Linked DNA regions of Homo sapiens: all the other regions are reported to be linked to region 2. Evidence: microRNA targets listed by miRTarBase, many of them from high-throughput screens and not tested one by one. Region 2 holds a microRNA gene; each other region holds the end of a gene's coding sequence.
The links. Region 2 holds the annotated microRNA hsa-miR-8054 (GAAAGUACAGAUCGGAUGGGU, at 1,910-1,930, shown strand). A microRNA usually pairs through its seed, bases 2 to 8, with sites in the 3' UTR of a target mRNA and lowers its output. Matches are read on the target gene's strand: a 7mer-m8 pairs with bases 2 to 8, a 7mer-A1 pairs with bases 2 to 7 and ends in A, and an 8mer does both.

Region 1: miRTarBase lists GTF2H5 as a target of hsa-miR-8054. Seed matches in the 3' UTR shown: 7mer-A1 at 3,746-3,752.
Region 3: miRTarBase lists PNISR as a target of hsa-miR-8054. Seed matches in the 3' UTR shown: 7mer-m8 at 1,158-1,164 and 7mer-m8 at 1,377-1,383.
Region 4: miRTarBase lists CPS1 as a target of hsa-miR-8054. Seed matches in the 3' UTR shown: 7mer-A1 at 1,054-1,060.
Region 5: miRTarBase lists ZFYVE21 as a target of hsa-miR-8054. Seed matches in the 3' UTR shown: 7mer-m8 at 2,680-2,686.

What each region holds. Positions count from the first base shown.
Region 1 is chr6:158,191,342-158,195,495 of GRCh38, forward strand. GTF2H5 (general transcription factor IIH subunit 5) reads left to right here. Exons shown (of 3, transcript NM_207118.3): 3 at 636-4,154. The coding sequence ends at 816. Among named protein-coding and RNA genes, the nearest start is that of GTF2H5, 25 kb to the left of the region's middle. RefSeq lists an enhancer at 3,030-3,630.
Region 2 is chr11:23,416,936-23,421,089 of GRCh38, reverse strand. It overlaps MIR8054 (microRNA 8054), which reads left to right and starts at 1,900; the gene lies at 1,900-1,985.
Region 3 is chr6:99,397,302-99,401,301 of GRCh38, reverse strand. PNISR (PNN interacting serine and arginine rich protein) reads left to right here. Exons shown (of 12, transcript NM_032870.4): 12 at 1-3,252. The coding sequence ends at 762. Among named protein-coding and RNA genes, the nearest start is that of COQ3, 5.1 kb to the right of the region's middle.
Region 4 is chr2:210,677,284-210,681,418 of GRCh38, forward strand. CPS1 (carbamoyl-phosphate synthase 1) reads left to right here. Exons shown (of 38, transcript NM_001875.5): 38 at 604-1,824. The coding sequence ends at 702. Among named protein-coding and RNA genes, the nearest start is that of CPS1-IT1, 62 kb to the left of the region's middle.
Region 5 is chr14:103,732,127-103,736,262 of GRCh38, reverse strand. It overlaps ZFYVE21 (zinc finger FYVE-type containing 21), which reads right to left. Exons shown (of 7, transcript NM_024071.4): 6 at 3,501-3,643; 7 at 2,599-3,280. The coding sequence ends at 3,245. PPP1R13B (protein phosphatase 1 regulatory subunit 13B) reads left to right here. Exons shown (of 17, transcript NM_015316.3): 16 at 61-260; 17 at 1,068-3,068. The coding sequence ends at 1,109. Among named protein-coding and RNA genes, the nearest start is that of ZFYVE21, 18 kb to the right of the region's middle.

The sequences.
Region 1 (4,154 bases), not on the chromosome of region 2:
GTTTAAATCAGTTAAGAAAGCTGTGATTCTAGGCCCTACTAACTACAAAGCTTTCAATATTCTTTTATTTTTTCCACTTAGTGACAAATTATTCTTTAAAAATCTTGCCATTGGCCTCTGCCTCTTCAACTTACACTAATAGTTCTTTTTTTTTTTTTTGAGACAGAGTCTCGCTCTGTCGCCCAGGCTGGAGTGCAGTGGCACGATCTCCGCTCACTGCAAGCTCTGCCTCCCAGGTTCACACCATTCTCCTGCCTCAGCCTCCCAAGTAGCTGGGACTACAGGCACCCGCCACCACACCCGGCTAATTTTTTGTATTTTTAGTAGAGACGGGGTTTCACCGTGTTAGCCAGGATGGTCTCGATCTCCTGACCTGGTGATCCACCCACCTCGGCCTCCCAAAGTGCTGGGATCACAGGTGTGAGCCATCGCACCCGGCCAACTTACACTAATAGTTCTAAAATGAAGCCATGTCTATAAATTGTTAACACTTGAGGCAGAGAGGAAGTGAGGGATTGAGTAACAGAACTTTAAAAATCATTCTAAAAATTCTACATGTTCACATTTAATTGCTCAAGTCTCTGTGATGTGATTTGACAACAAGCTGTCTTACAATCATGTGTTTGTCTTTACAGTGATCCTGCCATGAAGCAGTTTCTGCTGTACTTGGATGAGTCCAATGCCCTGGGGAAGAAGTTCATCATTCAAGACATTGATGACACTCACGTCTTTGTAATAGCAGAATTGGTTAATGTCCTCCAGGAGCGAGTGGGTGAATTAATGGACCAAAATGCTTTTTCCCTTACCCAGAAATGAAAATACTCAATATGGACCATTTAGGAATTATAAGCAGCAACTGTGAAAGACTTGCCACTCAATATCTTAGGTGACTGATTAGACATAGAGGGTTGTTTTAGGAGCATGCCACGGGAAAGACTGAGGGATCATGATCATTTGTTCAGAAAAAAAGCCCCTGAACTGATTTTGTTACCATAGAATTTAAAAAAAAAAAAAGCTTTAACAGTTGGCTGTAATTTGGCTTTTATTATCCTTTATTAAAATACAAATGTCAATGCTTTTCCTGCCTTTTTAATACCATGTCAGTGTAACATAGGTATTTATTTTGCTCATCCCTGTGATCTGTGCATTTTTGCTGCGTGGATGTGATTGTTTGGTTTCAGTTAGAAACGTCATAGATTTGCTGTTTGAATATGCCAAGGTGGGGACTTAGACATTATGTACGTCTCACAAATCCTACCTGCATACCAGTCAGCTCTATTGAGGAAGACAATGTAAAACTAATGTAAACTACAGTTTGCATTTCCCTGAAAACAGAATATTGTTTTTAAGAGGGTTAGAAACAACCAGTGGGAAAGGCACATGCTGCTTTGTTTAGTTTTTCCTTGTTCAAACTTTGTTGGTCACATTTTCCCATCTGTATTCTTTTTTATTAAGAAAACAGCTTAGGGAGGCTGAGGTGGGAGGATTGCTTGAGCCCAGGAGTCCGAGGTTGCTACAAAAACACCATTGCACTCTGGCCTGGACAACAGAGAGACCCTGCCTCAAAAAAAAAAAAAAAAAAAAAAAAAATTCTACTTGTACCTTATTCCCTATGAGAATACTTATCAAACTTATCTAAAAAAGAAAAATAGGAACAGCCATATGCAAAGTCAGCCCAACAGGAAAGGACATATTAGATTAAAATACATTGCGGCCTGGGCTTAGTGGCTCACACCTGTAATCCCAGCACTTTGGGAGGCTGAGGCAGGCAGATCGCTTGAGTCCAGGAGTCGAAACCCTGTCTCTACAAAAAAAAAAATACAAAAATCTGCCTGTTGTCCCAGCCACTGGGGAGGCTGAGGTAGGAGGTCAAGGCTGCAGTGAACCTTGATCATTGCTACTGCCACTCCAGCCTAGGTGACAGAGTGAGACCCTGTCTCCAAAAAAAAAAGTGTATATGTATGTGTGTATATATAGCAAGAGAGAGTTCTGTGATCAATTGAAGGCAAAAACAGTAACACTGAGAGGGGCTTTGCTTCCCTTCCTGAAGATCATGTCATTGGGGTGGGTTCCTGTAAAGGGAATTTTCCAAGAGAAAAGAGAATTTTCATGACCTGTAGACTCTTACAAATCCATTTTACCTGCTTCCTTATGGTATGTTTATTCAAAGCACCTGTGTACCATATTTATTCACTTACACAGCATTACTGAATCTGGAAATTTTCAGTTAGGTATATTTTACATAATTCCCACCCATATAACTCAGTCCATACAGTTCACAGTTTTCATTCCCTCATAGCAATGCAAAAAATTTTGATGAGTTACTACTACTAAAACTAGTTAAGTAAAAGATGATTCTTAAGAATTTCCAGGCTGGGCACGGTGGCTCACGCCTGTAATCCCAGCACTTTGGGAGGCTGAGGCAGGCAGCTCACGAGGTCAGGAGATCGAGACCATCCTGCTCGGTGAAACCCCATCTCTATTAAAAATACAAAAAATTAGCCGGGCCTGGTGGCGGGTGCCTGTAGTCCCATCTACTCAGGAGGCTGAGGCAGGAGAATGGCGTGAACCCGGGAGGCGGAGCTTGCAGTAAGCTGAGATTGTGCCACTGCACTCCAGCCTGGGCGACAGAGGGAGACTCCATCTCAAAAAAAAAAAAAAAAAAAAATGAATTTCCAGCTATACCAAAATGTTACTAATGTATCTTATATTTCAGGCATGTCTAAATCAACTTTTAGTATGCCTCAGGCATTTGTCACCAACCTTTTATATTAACATGAAACTTAGAAAATTTTTGATAGAATCCCAGAGTTCAAAAGGTATTAGGATTTTTGCCACTGAAGTAAAAAAGAGAAAAAAAGATATTTATGAGAAAACTATTGAACAGTGACTGTGTTGTACCCGAGCAAGTTAGAGGAACGCCACACTTTGAGACGAATTTAAAAGTCCTTTATTTAGCTGGCAGCCAAGAGGTGGCTCACACTTGGAATTCTCTCAGCTCCGAGGAAGGGGCTTGATTTTCCTTTATACTTTGGTTTAGGAAGGGGACGGGAGCTCAGTTGCAACAATTCTACAGAAGTAAAAACATGCAAAAAATTAAAAAGACAAATGGTTACAGAGAAACAAACAGTTCCAGGTGCAGGGGCTCTAAATCTATCATAAGATGTCAGGTGTGGGGGCTCTGCCAGACACAAACTCAAGGCTTTATGGTGTATCTCTTGAGCGAAATCCTGGGAACTTCGTACATTGCTTGCTTCAGTACCTTATGAGTTAATTGGACTCTTTGATATGTTGAGAGTCAGCTTACACAAGTTAACTCCTTGAGGAAAGGGGGTGGGTAAGGAGTCCTTGATGTCCTGTAAATGAAGGAACCAAATGGAGTTCCTCCGGCTTTCTCAGCTAAGGGAGAGCTTATTCACATGGAAACAAGGCTAGGTGATTAAGGGAGAAAGGGACAGTCTGAAAACAAGGTTAGTAAAAACAAGGTTAGGTATTAGAACTGCAAAGAGTATTAAGTGAAATAAGTGAAGGAAAATATGAGCTCTTATTTTTAAAAAGTTGTGTTGGGGCAAATGTTAAATATCTTTCTTTCTCTGGACATTATTAAGAAAGATAGAGTGATGTGAATGATAGGAAGCCCACCTGTAACCACTTAGCTGACATGTCCAACTATGGGTGAACAGGAAATAAGCGACATTCACCTAGGCTGTTTATTGGAATCTGACTAGCATTATTTGATTTGGCATACTTTACATGTCCAGAACAAGGCTGTTGGTGCTTGGCACCAAGAAATTTATGACTTTTTTTTTTTTTTTAAATAAAGTCCTAAAGGTAGCATTAAAATGACTTAACTGGAGGCAGGAGGATCACTGAAGCCCAGGAGTTTGAAGCTGCAGTAAGCTAAGAAGGTGCCACTGCACTGCAGCCTGGATGACAGAGTGAAACTTTGTCTCTTAATAGAACTATGGACTGAAGTTGTGATATTGAGTGTTATATTTCTCAATAAAGGTTTTTTCTTTTAATACTGTATTAGGTCAAATTCAAGGTCTTAATTCCTTGAATTCCAATTTCCTTGTGAAATTTCATGTGATTAATTTAAAATTCCAGGGATCCTATCTAACATCACAGTTGATGGATATAACAATGTATTTTGA
Region 2 (4,154 bases):
CGGTGTGTGATGTTCCCCTTCCTGTGTCCATGTGTTCTCGTTGTTCAATTCCCACCTATGAGTGAGAACATGCGGTGTTTGGCTTTTTTTCCTTGCGATAGTTTTCTGAGAATGATGGTTTCCAGCTTCATCCATGTTCCTACAAAGGACATGAACTCATCATTTTTTATGGCTGCATAGTGTTCCATGGTGTATATGTGCCACATTTTCTTAATCCAGTCTATCATTGTTGGACATTTGGGTTGGTTCCAAGTCTTTGCTATTGTGAGTAGTGCTTCAATAAACATACGTGTGCATGTGTCTTTATAGTAGCATGATTTATATTCCTTTGGGTATACACCCAGTAATGGGATGTCTGGGTCAAATGGTATTTCTAGTTCTAGATCCCTGAAGAATCGCCACACTGTCTTCCACAATGGTTGAACTAGTTTACAGTCCCACCAACAGTGTAAAAGTGTTCCTATTTCTCCACATCCTGTCTAGCACCTGTTGTTTCCTGACTTTTTAATGATTGCCATTCTAACTGGTGTGAGATGATATCTCATTGTGATTTTGATTTGCATTTCTCTGATGGCCAATGATGATGAGCATTTTTTCATGTGTCTGTTGGCTGCATAAATGTCTTCTTTTGAGAAGTGTCTGTTATAAAATAGCACATATATTACTATTATAGGTTAATTTTGAAATAAGCAAAACTTTGTGGGGGGGTGTGTGTGTGTATGAGAGAAACAGAGAGAGAGACAGGGAGAGAGGGAGAGAGAGAGAGAGAGAAAGGAAAGAGTTGAAAAGAGAGATAGTGAAGGGAAACTCAGGTTAATCCTAACTAGCACGCTTGGCTTGGAATCAGGGCTTGATTAATTCTGATGGGTTAGATTTGCTTGTGTTAAAATTTAGCTTAACTTCTGTGAGTTACAAATGACTGAGGAACTATAGTTTTCTATAACTGCTTTTGCAATGGCCTGCTTTTCATTCATACCATACTTAAGTTGCTAACCTCAAATGCATCCTCCTCCCAGTAAGCCTGTTCCATACAGTGAAAATGTTCCTGTCTATTCTAGCTTATTTCAGTTCTGATCATCTAGTATCTTAATTATGCTTAGTTTCTAAATTACATGTTGCCAGCATAAAAAATAATCTTCTAAAATTCATTCCATAAAATCTACAAAAAGAACCTGAAATAGCTTAGGAACTCTGTTTACCAATTCCTCTTAAACATTTGCTAGTAAATCAGTAATGATAGTTTTGGTAAAATTTGAGAACATGCTATTGAATTGCACTTTTTCTCCATTTATTAATGTTAAGTGTTTTAATGCTATCCTTTGTGGAGACAAACCCTGTCTCTACCCGATATTAAGTCAAACACAATATAAAGAGGGTGTCTGAAAACAGAACAAATTTTCTAAAATTGAGTATCTTTGTTTTTAAGAAGATATTTTTCTTGGCACTGATAACCACTGAAACAGAAAGGTGCTTTAAAAATTTCTGAAAAATTGTGGGTTTTAGCTAGGTTCTATGTTTAAAGCCAGGGTTTCTTTAATTACTTTGAATAACTTGGCAGACAATTTAGACTAAGTGTGGTATAAGGAGTACTTTAACCTCCCATCCATATTAAAGGTGAGTATAAAAACAGAATGCATGAGGGAGAATGAATTTGGAGGCTTTGGATAGAATGAACATACCTTTCCTCTGAAAGTCATGCTAACAAGCTATGGGATCCTGGGTATATTCCTTCAGTTGGCTATTGGATGCCCAGTCCCTAAACTCCATTAGAAAATAAGACATAAAGTTTCCTAGAGTACAATCAATAATCTGTATTTCCAGTTTCAGCAGGTGACATCATATGCATTTTCCTGCAAGAATTATCCTAAGAATTGTAGTCAAGGGTGGTCAAAGTAGTAACAGCAATGCAGAAAGTACAGATCGGATGGGTTCAATAGATTGCTTTAGCTGAAGCAAGCCTTCCCATTGTACATATCTCATTGTCTTTCAGAAAAACATGTTTTCACAAATAGAAAGAAGCATCACCCACTGTGTATAAAGCTGTTTTCTCACCAGAGGCAATATGAATCTTTGCTATTATCTTCAGTCATCACCATCCTCCTCCTCCTCATCATCATCTTCAAGACTAACATTTACTAGATGGTGCTACATTCTGAGTAATGTACTTCTGAGTACATTACTTGCATTTATTCATTTGGTTGTCACAACATTTCTTTTAGGTACAAAATATTTTATATTCATATTACAGAAGGCAATGCTGAAACAAACTAACACGCAAACATTTTTACACTAATTACTGTATTCAAAATTCAAAAATATTCCATCTGACTCAAGGCTCTTCATAATGAAACTCTTTTCTCCCACTAGTAGTTTTCAAATTAGACAGAAATAGGCTAAAATAATAAAACTTCCATTCATTAATCTGGGGACTATAGTCAAGGAAGAGACATACTAAGTCTCAGTTTCCTCATTTATAAAATTAACTATATAATGTTACCTATGTATGTGATAAAGTTGTGACTTTTAAAGAAAAAGAGTACACAAAGATGCTTCATATAATGTCTGAGAGTGAGAATTAACCTTAAGATACCAAAGTAACGATATTTGTAATTAGTACGTGTGTGTGTGTGTGTGTGTGTGCATGTGAATGTGTCCTGGGCTTGTGTGTATGTGAATGGGCCAAGTAACAGCATTAATCGAATTTGATGTTTCCTTAGAGATTAATTTAAGCACTCTGAAAATCATGTTGATTGATCAGCAGTCAGGAGACTTTTAATTGAAGTGCTTAATTCATTTAGCTAATGTGATAAACAATGCCAGAAGAAACAAGAAATGAAGCTGTCAGGGGTCCAGATATTTCATGACCTTAATTTTGTTTCAGAAAACCACAACTATTTTTTCAACCTTTTTGGTCTTACTTCCCATTCTTATTTGTCCCCACCTCATTTTATTTCCTTTCATTATAAGGAAGAATTGTCAGGAATGAAATCTGAGAAGCAGTGAACAGATCAAGGCATTTCCTCTACCCCCTTTTAATATAAATACTTGATATCCTGAAAGTAAGAATCCCACGATCCCCACCCCTCCAGCCTCTCATTGCAGGTTTTCTCACAAGTGTTTGTTGGGATATGACTGTAAAGGAGTTTTGAGGCATCCTCCCACCTAATACAGCATACAGCACATACATCATTGACTCTGTATTACATTGTATTATTCTGCAATGTTTGCACACTATTAATTTGACAAAGATTACAAAGCCAATCACATCTGTGACATTATGTTAAAATCAAAAACTGCTGAATGGCTCTGTCTCGGGACAAGTTCAGGCAGAGGTTACTGAATACACTATATCAGCATGAATGAAGGAGTGGGTATATATTTTACTTTCTTATTTTGCATTAAACTCATCAGTGACTGGAAGTTTAGCATGTAGTTTGTTTTACTGATTGTATTCTCAAACAGCTGAAAATACCTTGATCCTGGTGTGAGACTGAACAATGACTAAAAAGATTGTCCTACTTTACTTTAAAAAGGCTTTGAAAATACTATGAATTACTCTAAGGGTCCAGGTAGGATGGTCCCAAAGTATAGGAGAAATAAGAAATAAATTGGTTTCTCGAAATAATTTTTTCATCAGAAAATTTCCATTTTTATCTTTGTTGTCCCTGAAATGCCTCCCTCTAAGTTATATCTACTTTTAGAGTAGAGCTGTTTGCCTCCAAAGACCTTCTATTCTGTGCTCCTGAAACCTCCTTGACATATAACTTATGGGTATCTTTTATTCGGAATTTCCAATTATTGTATGTTTGTGAATAATAATAGATGCTAGATATTGGTTTCTTATTATGATCCGGAAACTAAGTGTTATGGTCTAAATTATGTCTCCACAAAATTCATTGGTTGAAGCCTTAACCCTTAATGTGAATATACTTGGATATAGGACCTTTAATGAGGTAATTACAATTAAATGAGGTTATAAGATGGAGCCATTATCCAGTAGAATTGGTGTGCATATAAGAAGAAGCGACACCAAGAGTGCCTTCATGCAGAGGAAAAGTCATGAAGACACAGCAGTCAGAAAGTAGCTATTTGCAAGTCAGGAAGAAAGGTCTATCAGAATCCAATCTTGGGGGCACCTTGATCTTGGATATCCA
Region 3 (4,000 bases), not on the chromosome of region 2:
AAAAGGAAAAAGAGACACAGTAGGAGTAGATCTCCAACAATCAAAGCTAGACGTAGCAGGAGTAGAAGCTATTCTCGCAGAATTAAAATAGAGAGCAATAGGGCTAGGGTAAAGATTAGAGATAGAAGGAGATCTAATAGAAATAGCATTGAAAGAGAAAGACGACGAAATCGGAGTCCTTCCCGAGAGAGACGTAGAAGTAGAAGTCGCTCAAGGGATAGACGAACCAATCGTGCCAGTCGCAGTAGGAGTCGAGATAGGCGTAAAATTGATGATCAACGTGGAAATCTTAGTGGGAACAGTCATAAGCATAAAGGTGAGGCTAAAGAACAAGAGAGGAAAAAGGAGAGGAGTCGAAGTATAGATAAAGATAGGAAAAAGAAAGACAAAGAAAGGGAACGTGAACAGGATAAAAGAAAAGAGAAACAAAAAAGGGAAGAAAAAGATTTTAAGTTCAGTAGTCAGGATGATAGATTAAAAAGGAAACGAGAAAGTGAAAGAACATTTTCTAGGAGTGGTTCTATATCTGTTAAAATCATAAGACATGATTCTAGACAGGATAGTAAGAAAAGTACTACCAAAGATAGTAAAAAACATTCAGGCTCTGATTCTAGTGGAAGGAGCAGTTCTGAGTCTCCAGGAAGTAGCAAAGAAAAGAAGGCTAAGAAGCCTAAACATAGTCGATCGCGATCCGTGGAGAAATCTCAAAGGTCTGGTAAGAAGGCAAGCCGCAAACACAAGTCTAAGTCCCGATCAAGGTAGTATACTTTTTAAAGTATTTTGTCTGATTTTTAAAAAAAATTGACTGAATTTATTCAAAGTTGAAAGTGTCCTTTCTCTCTCTCTTTAATAAACTCAGTTTGGTACTTGATAAATAATCATAGTCTTAAATGTTAGAAATCCTATATAATATTATTTATTTAAAATTGCAGATTTTTAATTTAAAATACATTTTTATTTTTAAATTTTGTCTTTTCCCTTTTTTTTCAGATCAACAACCCCTCCCCGTCGTAAACGCTGAGGAATGATGTGGCAAGAATGCCATGATGTTCTTTAAAAAAATTCCATGAGTTTTAAGGGCTTGTCTCATTATAGAGGCACATTGTGGCTGTGTAGGTGAAACCAGAATCTTTTTTTTTTTTAATCTGTAAATAGGTGTACTTTTTCCAATGCTGCTCCAAGTTACTTAATAGGATTTCTTTGTATTACGTTTTTTTCAAAAAATATAGTGCATAATAAGACTATAAACATGCCATTCTCTTTCAGCTGTAATGTTCTTAAAATTATTCTTGAATGTACTGTGATGTCAATAAAGCTCTTTAGTTCATTTTTGTTAAACTCTTGCACCTTAATTTTATGGTTTTAATCTAAGGAACGTACTTTTATAAAAAGGCAGCTGGAATTTTGTATAACAGGTTTTAAAGGTACCTTCTCTCACCTCCCCCAAAGAAAATGGTTTTTACTTAATAGTTTGTCAAAGTTTGTAAATTGTACCCATGGACTTTTGCCAGATTCCAACTTTAAGGGTATGAAAGAGGGCTAGAAATAGACCTTTACTTTTCATTTGGAAGTATTTGACAACTTTCTAAACTTTTCTTCCTATTTTGGGGATTTTCAAGTAATATATTCTCTGTGTGTATAACGTGTGGTTCACTCCTGTAAAATGAAATTGCTGGAATCAATCAAGCCAGTGCACCAGTAGAGTTATTTGTAAGGAACGATTGTGTTTGACAGTAATAGTCAAGTCTGGAACTATATTCTACAGTCACCCACTTCTGTTTTAGAAGCATTTTGAAACACTTTTTGGGGTTATAGAAATAAGACTCATGATTCAATATATTTATTTATATTTTTAAAGTATAATATGACCTCAAATCAATGGAGGAATGCTGTATTATGCAGGTTTGTGTCAATTTCCTGACATTAAAATTGTCTGATTTTGTCCGTTTCTTAAAATTATGATTAGTGAGTGGTCTAACAGTTTAAGGCATTGATAACTTACAAGTAGAATGGGGCTCTCAAAGCATTTTAACTCAGTTGCTTTAGGGTCCATTTTTTTATGTAATCACTTACTCAGTGATAAATGAATCTCTGAAAACAAATGCTTTTACATTTTAATTTAAAAAGAAAACAGGTGCAGGCCACAGAAAAGTTTTAAAGTATGCCTTCTTACCAGCAATAGTTCATTTTAAAAATCATGCCAGATTTTTGCCAAGATCAGTGTTTCCTCAACATGAAGATAGAAATAGATTTGTATAGTGTGCTCTTGTACCTCTACATAGATTATTATATAATTTTGAGCAGTTACACATTTATCTAAAGGAAATAAATCAACTGTGAATAAATGCATGTTTACCAAAATGGCTGTTTACAGTGCATTTAGTTCTGATATTTATAAAGATGACATTTCACAGAATAACTTTAAAATAGTTTGAAATTCTATATAGTTTAGACATCGATCACATCTGGAGACAAAATAAAATGTGCAATATTTTTTATGTAGGCGAGCTAACACAGTGTACCTAATTGCAGAATTATCTGATTAATTTGTAATAGATAAGTTGTATAACATTTTCATATCTTAAAATGTTTTTTAGATCAATCTTGAAGTGAAATATTTTCAAAATAAAATTCTACAGAAAAATTCTGTTGGCTATGATATGCACATTTTTGGGCAAGTTATGAACTAGAGCCAAAAGTAGTATTTGACAGTTTTATTTACTCTGCCGTAATTTGCAAGCTTATCAGTTAAGTCTGTAGTTTTTTTAAAAGCCGTCATGATATTTGTGATTATTAGTACATAAACCAGTGTTATAATTTGATATTTGGGTTTTTCAGACTTTTAGTGGCAGATTTAGAGAATTCTTTATTTTCTTGACATGTGATATAGTATTTATTTACCTTGAGTGGTAAGGTTTTATAAGGTAGGGTTTCCATGATTTAGGATGTGAATGCAAAAACTTACACATAAGTTAATTAGATGTATAATTTGGTTATGAAATCTTTTCTAAAATAATACCACCAGAAAATTAACAGATCAAATTTTTGAGACAATCCTTGGTCTGGATTGGTTAATGAAAATGTCTTGTTTAAGAGGTTCTATTAAAAAATATTTCTAGTGTATTAGTCATAATTGTTTTTGTGGAGTGGGGGTAAACCACACCATTAAGGGAATAAAATGTAATTTGAAAGAGGTGATTATAAGATTTGTTTCAGGCCCCAAAATATAAATAAAAATTGGTGTGGAATCTCGTTAGTGTATATGTTTTCTGCCACTATAAAATTACCTTTTTAGCATCTGTTTCTAGTGGTGTAATACCAAGTAGGTAAATTTCGCAGTCTATTTTTAAGTGTCCTGAGTTTTTTGTTTCCTTAAACACATGAAAGGTAATAGTAAAGAATTTTTTACTGTATTTGGGAATTTTTACATAGGAGTTGTATTAGGTTTCCAGTCTCTGTAGTGTTGCCTTACAGAAATCTTTACATCTAAACTGAGTTTTTCTTCTCCTACATAAATTTAAATGTATTTTGATTTACTGAAGTTTCTAAAATGTACTGAGTACAGACATACACCACATAACGACGTTTCAGTCAATGACGGGCCACATGTACAACAGTGGTCCCATAAGATTATAATGTATTTTTACTGTACCTTTTCTGTGTTTAAATACACAAAACCATGATATTACAGTTGCCTACAGTTTTCAATATAGTATTTGTAGCCTAGGAGCAAAAGGCTATACCATGTAGCCTGGGTGTGTAGTAGTCTATACCATCTAGGTTTATGTAAGTATACTCTGTGATGTTCACATCACAATGAAATCACCTAATGACACATTTCTCACATGTCCCCAAGTTAAGCAACTGCATAGTTGCTGTTTCTTGCTTTTTGAGATGGAGTCTTTCTCTGTTGCCCAGCCTGGAGTGTAGTGGCGCAGTCTCAGCTCACTGCAAACTCTGCCTCCTGGGTTCAAGTGATTCTCTTGCCTCAGCCTCCTGA
Region 4 (4,135 bases), not on the chromosome of region 2:
GCTAACATGGTAGGTCATGGCTTAAATGGGACAGTTGGTGATCAAGCAATTGAGATAATCAAAGGCCATGAATGGCCATGGCTCTCTCCTTACAATTATCCTTTGAATAAAAAGTGACAGCATGACATGGAATAAAGATACAAACTTTTATTTCATTGTTTCTAAATGAAAGCCACCATATAAAAGCAACAGGTTAATGATGGTCCAGATGTAGCACAAGTGCTTGTTCAATTCACAGAAAATGATTGCATGAGGCATGTTCAGTTTCACTTGGACATGACCCATCGAATTTATCACAGGGAGAAACAGAGTGGAGACTCATTAACTTTCTGCCTATCATATTTATTTTTTATGCAGAATCAGTTTTAATCCCTATGGGAGGAGAAATAAGCGTATTCACAGTGACATCTGAGATATAAAAGAAAGTCCCCATGGTGAGGTCTGAGACATGGGAGAAAGTCTCCATTACATAAAAAACTTTTATGCCTTTTATCCCATACCCCTTTGAAAACTGGGGACAGACACTTGTGACTTTTGTCTTCATTCATTAAAAATTCACTTTTATCTCATGGAGGGTGCTGATTCCTACCATTATATTTTCAGGTGACCAAACTTTTTGCTGAAGCTGTGCAGAAATCTCGCAAGGTGGACTCCAAGAGTCTTTTCCACTACAGGCAGTACAGTGCTGGAAAAGCAGCATAGAGATGCAGACACCCCAGCCCCATTATTAAATCAACCTGAGCCACATGTTATCTAAAGGAACTGATTCACAACTTTCTCAGAGATGAATATTGATAACTAAACTTCATTTCAGTTTACTTTGTTATGCCTTAATATTCTGTGTCTTTTGCAATTAAATTGTCAGTCACTTCTTCAAAACCTTACAGTCCTTCCTAAGTTACTCTTCATGAGATTTCATCCATTTACTAATACTGTATTTTTGGTGGACTAGGCTTGCCTATGTGCTTATGTGTAGCTTTTTACTTTTTATGGTGCTGATTAATGGTGATCAAGGTAGGAAAAGTTGCTGTTCTATTTTCTGAACTCTTTCTATACTTTAAGATACTCTATTTTTAAAACACTATCTGCAAACTCAGGACACTTTAACAGGGCAGAATACTCTAAAAACTTGATAAAATTAAATATAGATTTAATTTATGAACCTTCCATCATGATGTTTGTGTATTGCTTCTTTTTGGATCCTCATTCTCACCCATTTGGCTAATCCAGGAATATTGTTATCCCTTCCCATTATATTGAAGTTGAGAAATGTGACAGAGGCATTTAGAGTATGGACTTTTCTTTTCTTTTTCTTTTTCTTTTTTTCTTTTTGAGATGGAGTCACACTCTCCAGGCTGGAGTGCAGTGGCACAATCTCGGCTCACTGCAATTTCCGTCTCCCAAGTTCAAGCGATTCTCCTGCTTTAGACTATGGATTTCTTTAAGGAATACTGGTTTGCAGTTTTGTTTTCTGGACTATATCAGCAGATGGTAGACAGTGTTTATGTAGATGTGTTGTTGTTTTTATCATTGGATTTTAACTTGGCCCGAGTGAAATAATCAGATTTTTGTCATTCACACTCTCCCCCAGTTTTGGAATAACTTGGAAGTAAGGTTCATTCCCTTAAGACGATGGATTCTGTTGAACTATGGGGTCCCACACTGCACTATTAATTCCACCCACTGTAAGGGCAAGGACACCATTCCTTCTACATATAAGAAAAAAGTCTCTCCCCAAGGGCAGCCTTTGTTACTTTTAAATATTTTCTGTTATTACAAGTGCTCTAATTGTGAACTTTTAAATAAAATACTATTAAGAGGTAATGCAGTTGAATCTGGTTTTATTTTATGTTGCTGTACAAAAATCAGTTTACTTCTATGATAAAATAGGGTTTTGGGCCAGGATTGCATTGCTTATTTATTTTTTCCATGCAAACCCATATAGGGATGAGAAAATTAATGTTAAAAATAAGTTTTAGCTGTCACATTTTTCATTTTTTCTTGTCCCTCCCTTGCTTTTAAGTCTCATCATAACATTATGTGGTTATATGGCTATAAACCATCTTTGATCTGGATCCTTTCTAATGTATAACTACAACCACAAACTGATTAAAGATTGCCACAAATATATAGTAAACTTTCAAACAAATGTCTTGCATAACTCAGAAAAGTAACTTAACCCAATCAGAGGCTGACCAGCATTGTCTGATGGAAATAGTGCCAATGAGCACACTGATGCCATATCCCCAATTTACCACCGAAACTATGGCTTTGTGAAGGTCCTAAGATAATTATGCTATAACAGCTTTTATTTCTTCCTTGTTACCTCACAGTCAATTGATTACCACTTTGTATAGCTCTAGACGAATGCTTAAAGTAATTCATCTTCTCTCCCCCTCACTTCCTTGTTCTTCCTGTGGTCAAGACTTTCATTACTTCTTCCCTGTAATCTTTTTTTTTTTTTTTTTTTTTTTTTGAGACGGAGTTTTGCTCTTGTCACCCAGGCTGGAGTGCAGTGGCGCGATCTCAGCTCACTGCAACCTCCATCTCCTGGGTTCCAGCGATTCTCCTGCCTCAGCCTCCTGAGTAGCTGAGATTACAGGTGCCCGCCAACAAGCCTGGCTAATATTTTGTATTTTTAGTAGAGACGGGGTTTCGCCATGTTGGGCAGGCTGGTCCCCTATAATCATATAATTATGTAATCCCTGATCACTTTGATTCATTCACCTGAAAATATTTAATGAGTTTCTTCCATGTTTCATGTAGAATATATCACAATCTCTCCTACTATTATTCTAGCATGTTTCTGTTACATATCACCAGCACCACAACCACCATCACCATAATAATTAACATTATGGAGTCCATACTATTTTTCAGGCATTTGTAAGTACTTTACATGAGTTAACCTAGTTAATCCACAAAATATCCCTGTGAGTAGGTGCTGTTATCTCCATACTATAAATAAGAAAACTTAGGCATACCAAAGTTAAGTAACATGCTCAAGGTCACACGAAATGGAGTCTCACTTTTCTGTATCATATTCTGGTGAAGGTAGGCATGTAAAAAGAAATCATTTCTCACAGTAAAGAAAATAATTTGCCTGCAGAGATCAGGGAAGGGCATTTTAAGGAGATGGATTCATGTGTTGCCTTGAATAAGATCTTGCAGTTGCCAAGGAAGACTAGAAGGTAAGGACATTTAGGAAAATGACAATGACGTTGTTATGACTGGAGCTCAGGGTATGTGTGGAGGGAAAGGGCTAGTAGCAGAAGTTGAGACTGGACTCTTAATGGTGGATGTTTAAACTAGGTAGAAGTTTTAAAACTTTTTATTTGGAAATAATTTTGGATTTAAATTTTAAAAGTAAAAAAATCCCCAGATCTACCTATTGGTAATATTTTACTTCATTTGCTTTATTCTACTCTTATCATCTATTTCTCTATCTAAACACACTTGACACACATACATATTCACAGAGGAAGATAAAAATTACATGTTGACTAAAAGTGAGCAGGCTGTTAGTGACCAATTTAGATATGTAACTCAATGTTTTAAATAAACAATTGTTTGCTGAAACTGTCAAAAACTCAATTAGTTAATCATTGTATTGTGAGAATTTAATAAAGGGTCCTAATTTTTATATTAATGTGAGCCGGCTATTTGTAAGATATGGTAAAATTTGAAGATTAATAATAATTAATTTAACATTGTGTCTATATAAACTCTGTTTTTTGTTGACAAAAGGGCTTTGGAAAACCAGAAGACAGGATAGACCTCATGGTGCTGAAAATGGAATTACATTAATTTTTGTTTTGGTTGCCTTTCTGTTTTCCAACATTCCAAACTTTAAAAAGACTTAACAACAGATAAATAACACATTTAAGATCTTTGGTTGGAGGAGAGAAATCCAAGAAAGTAGAAACATTTGTGCTCAGATTTGGCAAGGCTTTGTCCTTTTGGAACATATTTATTCTTTCATATAAACATGTTAACACATTTTTAAATGTCCAAATCTATTATATATCACAAGTTCGGACAACACAGGGTCTATGTCTGTAGAGCTGAATAACAAATCTAAGTAGCTTTTTCCATACTGAGAATTTAATGGTGTGCAAGAAGGATGGGCTCTATT
Region 5 (4,136 bases), not on the chromosome of region 2:
CAGGGTCCCTTGCTGCAGGCCACCCTCTGCTGAGGCCTGACCATTGCTCTCTGGCTCCAGGGGTGCAGGAAAAGCTGGGTGTGATGAACAAAGGTGTGGCGTATGCTCTGTGGGACTACGAGGCCCAGAACAGTGACGAGCTGTCCTTCCACGAAGGGGACGCCCTCACCATCCTGAGGCGCAAGGACGAAAGCGAGACTGAGTGGTGGTGGGCTCGCCTTGGAGACCGGGAGGGCTATGTGCCCAAAAACCTGCTGGGGGTGAGCACTCAGGTTACTTACTGGGAAACTAGCTGCCCGTGTCTCTGTACAGCATGCGGTCCTATCCTGCTGTGGGGCTGGGGAGGGAGGCTTCGCTTCTCTGAGCCTCAGCAGCCCCCTCTGTAGAGGGGGAGGTGCCTACTTGGCAGAGCTGGCATGAGGCTCAGGCAGGGCCCCAGGAGGTTCCCCCAGCCATGCTTATGCCATGGAGGCCCGTGCGGAGGCTGAGTGCCCCAGTGAGGGGCCGCTCAATGAGCTCGGTTCATGATGAACTTCACCAAGTGGCCCGGCTCAGCCCACCCACACTTTCCCCAATCTAGAAATCTCTGCAGCCTAGAAATTTCTCCAGTGGAGGGAGAGGTGGGAACGTGCAGGCTGCTAGCTCTGTGTTGGACTTGTGATTCCCTCAGTCCTCTGGCAGAGGGAGCTGCCTCTGCTCTCTTTGTGCCCTGCAGAGCTGCCAGGGGCTTGCTGTTGAGCCAACGTTCTTGGCCAGGCAAACACAGCAGGGAGCCAGGCAGAGACCCTTGCCCAGGGGAGCTTATGACCTTGAGAGCCACAGGCAGTCACAAGTCTTTAGGTGGCATGAAGTGTTGTGAGAAAAATAGGATATTCTGGGGGTACAAGGCACATTTTAAAGAGGGCTGGGTGGGTCTCAGTGTAGAGGTGCAGCTGAGCGTAGGCCTGAGGGACAAGGGTGCTGCACGGCTGTCCAGGGTGGCTGAGGTGAGGAGCAGGGGTCGGGTCTGGCTGGCCCTGCTCCCTGTGTGTGGCTTCCTGTCCTGACGCGGCTCCGTTGCTTCCCAGCTGTATCCACGGATCAAACCCCGACAGCGAACACTCGCCTGAACTTCCTTTTGGAGCACCGCATGGTCTTGCCAGCTACCAGGAGCCACTTAAGAGATTATTGTGCTGTTTTCCAGGAAAGCTGCAGCTAGAAAATGGTCTTAATGGTGCTCACTTTAGCAGACAGCGTCCACAATGTGAATCCTACAGTTTCCAGGTGAGGCCCTTTCTCCAGTTTGCCCATTAACTGGGAGAGGTACTTTCGCCTCCAAGGACTGAATTTTGCCAATTACTATAAATCCAAATAAATACCCACTTTCAAAACACCCACCCCTCTTGCCATTAAGAAGTCCCATAACCCCCGGTTGGTTGCCAGTGAAGACAGAAGCTCTTACTGACTTGGCCCCGAGGCCATCACCCCCTCCAGCAGTGAACACTGTCCGCCGCTGTGAGGCCTGCTCCCCTGCGACCGCCCTGCCCCCCGTCACCGAATCGGACACTCATCCTTTCTCACACTTCCCACACATGATCCTTCTTCCCTTCATCACCAAAGGAGCCTCTGTATGGAAACATGTCCAGTGTTGCTGCCCAGTGTGTATGCCTCCCAGTACCCACTCTGCTCGGCCGCCTTGGGGGTTCCGCTTCCTGTTCCAGTTCACCTAAAGGCTGATTGTGCAGGCCCAGCACTGTGGCTGGACTGCCGCGCCACGGGCACCAGGACCCCTAAGACCAAGTGACAACTGGGAGAGCCTCAGCATATACTCTTCTCCTCCGATCTCACAGCCTGTCATGCTGCTCAGTGTGGTTCTCACCCCTGCAAGCTCAAATTCAGTTCCCTGAATGGAGTCAGGTGCTGGAGGCCGTGGCAGCGGAGGGTGGTTGGGGTTGGGGCTGGGGGTGGACTGGTGTGAGGGCAGACCAGGGCCAGGTAGACGGGGCTGTTTGGTGCCTGAAGGATGGCAGACGCCTGGTGTCAGGAGGGGCCGCCACCAAGGAGCAGCAGCTGGGGCAGAGGAGCTGGGGTCAGGGGCCACCCCTCTCTGCCGATCTCCCTGCCTGGGCTGGCTGTGAGGCCACCTTTGTCCCAGGCCCAGCCTCAAGGCAAGGAGGGCGCTTCACTGAGGTGTGAATTGTACGTACAGGCTTTTTATATACCAAAAGTATTTTTTGACTAGACCATTCAAAGCTACCCGAACTATGTTGGAAATTTTTTTTTTCTCATTAAAATACAGGCCCTTAGGCTCTATTTTTCATGTATGAGTCGTGTGTAATTTATGTAAAAATGTGTGTACAGACTCACTGATGCAGCACTGTAGCCCATCACCTTGGAGCACTGACTGTACATAGTGTGGTGAAGAAAAGTGAACGCCCTTGTAGAGCAGCCCGACCACAGGAGCATGGCCGCTGCCAGCCCAGACGCTGCTGACGCTGTGTAAATGTGCACAATAAACCCGTCTCACCCCGGCGGCTGTGAGTCTTCTTTCTGGACCCAGACTGCGCTGTGGCACGAGGGTTCAGGTGATCTGGACACAGGAAGGCGAGGCCTTGTCCGTATGTTCAAAATAGTTTTTAATCATAAGCTTTATATACAAATTGCTGTACAGTCATCTTAATAAAGTGAAATAGTGAGTGAAAAGTACAAAACACAAAGCCCCCACGTTCCCCTTGGTGAAGTATCAAAGGATCACTCACAGCCCAGAAGCCCCAAATTAGTGACAAGGTAAGTGGACAAGTCTGTGAAACAGGCTAAGGCAAGTGCTGTAAACTGGCTATTAGAGGCGAACAGGCTCCACTGCAGACCAGAAGCCTGAGTTCCTACTGCCCAAACTGGTTCTGTGGAAGAATTAAATGAAATGAATATTGATGGGCCAGAACCTTCTAGTAGACCTGCGAACTCATAAAAATGGTATATATTATGCTAAAAATAGTTTAGCAGTAGTGTAGCTCAGTCTCTCCCACCCCCAATTAAGTATTGACAATACACAAATTCTAAAACATGAAGCTGTTTAAAGCATTAATAAACTGTGAACATATTGCACTAGATAAGTGAACACTCCTGTTTCTCCAAATACATGAGTGAGTTGCATTTCCCAGCACAAGCAGGATTAATCCCTGTGGTACGCAAGGAGCAGGCTCTGCTGTTCCAAGCGACTCAGTCCTGGTGACCACACGTACTCCAAGCTCAGCCCCACGTAGAGTTACTGGTCCCGAGATTCATAGAGGAGCTTGGCAGCCTGCAGATCAGACAAGATCAACACAGTGAGGCCTGCTTGGTCCTGTGCCTGGTGGAGCCAAGCCTGTGTGCATTTCAGGGGAGATGGCGTGGGCACCCCAGCTGAGGGGGAACAGGTTGTGGGGATAGGGGGCAAATGGCAGGACACAGAGCTTCCTCTGGGAAAGGCAAGCTTTTGTCTAAGCCAAAGGGCCCAGCCTCCCTGGCCTGGGCTCAGGTACCTTGTGCATGGCCACTAGCCACGCCACCGCCTGCCTCCTGCCCACAGTCACGTCCTCCACCACTGTCAGCTTCAGCTGGGTCACACCCTCCGTCCCCGGCACTGTATACTGCAGGAACATGCCTGTGGCCCGTGCGTTGCCTCCTGGAGGAGAGAGACGAGGTAAGACGGCCCAAAGGAGGCCCTGAGTGCCCAGGCGGCCACCAGCCCCAAGGCGGTGGCCAGCACATCCTAACCTTGTGCTGCTCCAAGAGTAGCCTGGCAGTGAGGGCTGGTGCTCAGGAGCACCCAGGGAACACCATCTCCTCAGGCCTCTGAGGGGAGACCCCAAGCTCACAGGTGGGGTGGGAGAGGGACCAAGACACTCAGCCGGGTGCCCCAGGGCCCGGGACAAACAACAAGAGCCACATCACCACGAGAGGCCTTGCTCTCGGCTAATTGAGGCGCTGCTATGCCCTGGGGCCTGTGGGGGTTCCTGCCTTCAGAGAACCTCCAGACAAGACTGGCTCCTGCAGAGGTGCCCACCTGCACCCAGGGCTGGGGGAAGAGTGGAGGCCACCTCGAGAGTGCCCTGGCCACTGACAGGCCAAGCAGATGGTCAGGGACACAGCTGGCCTCACCCAGGAGTCAGAGGCCT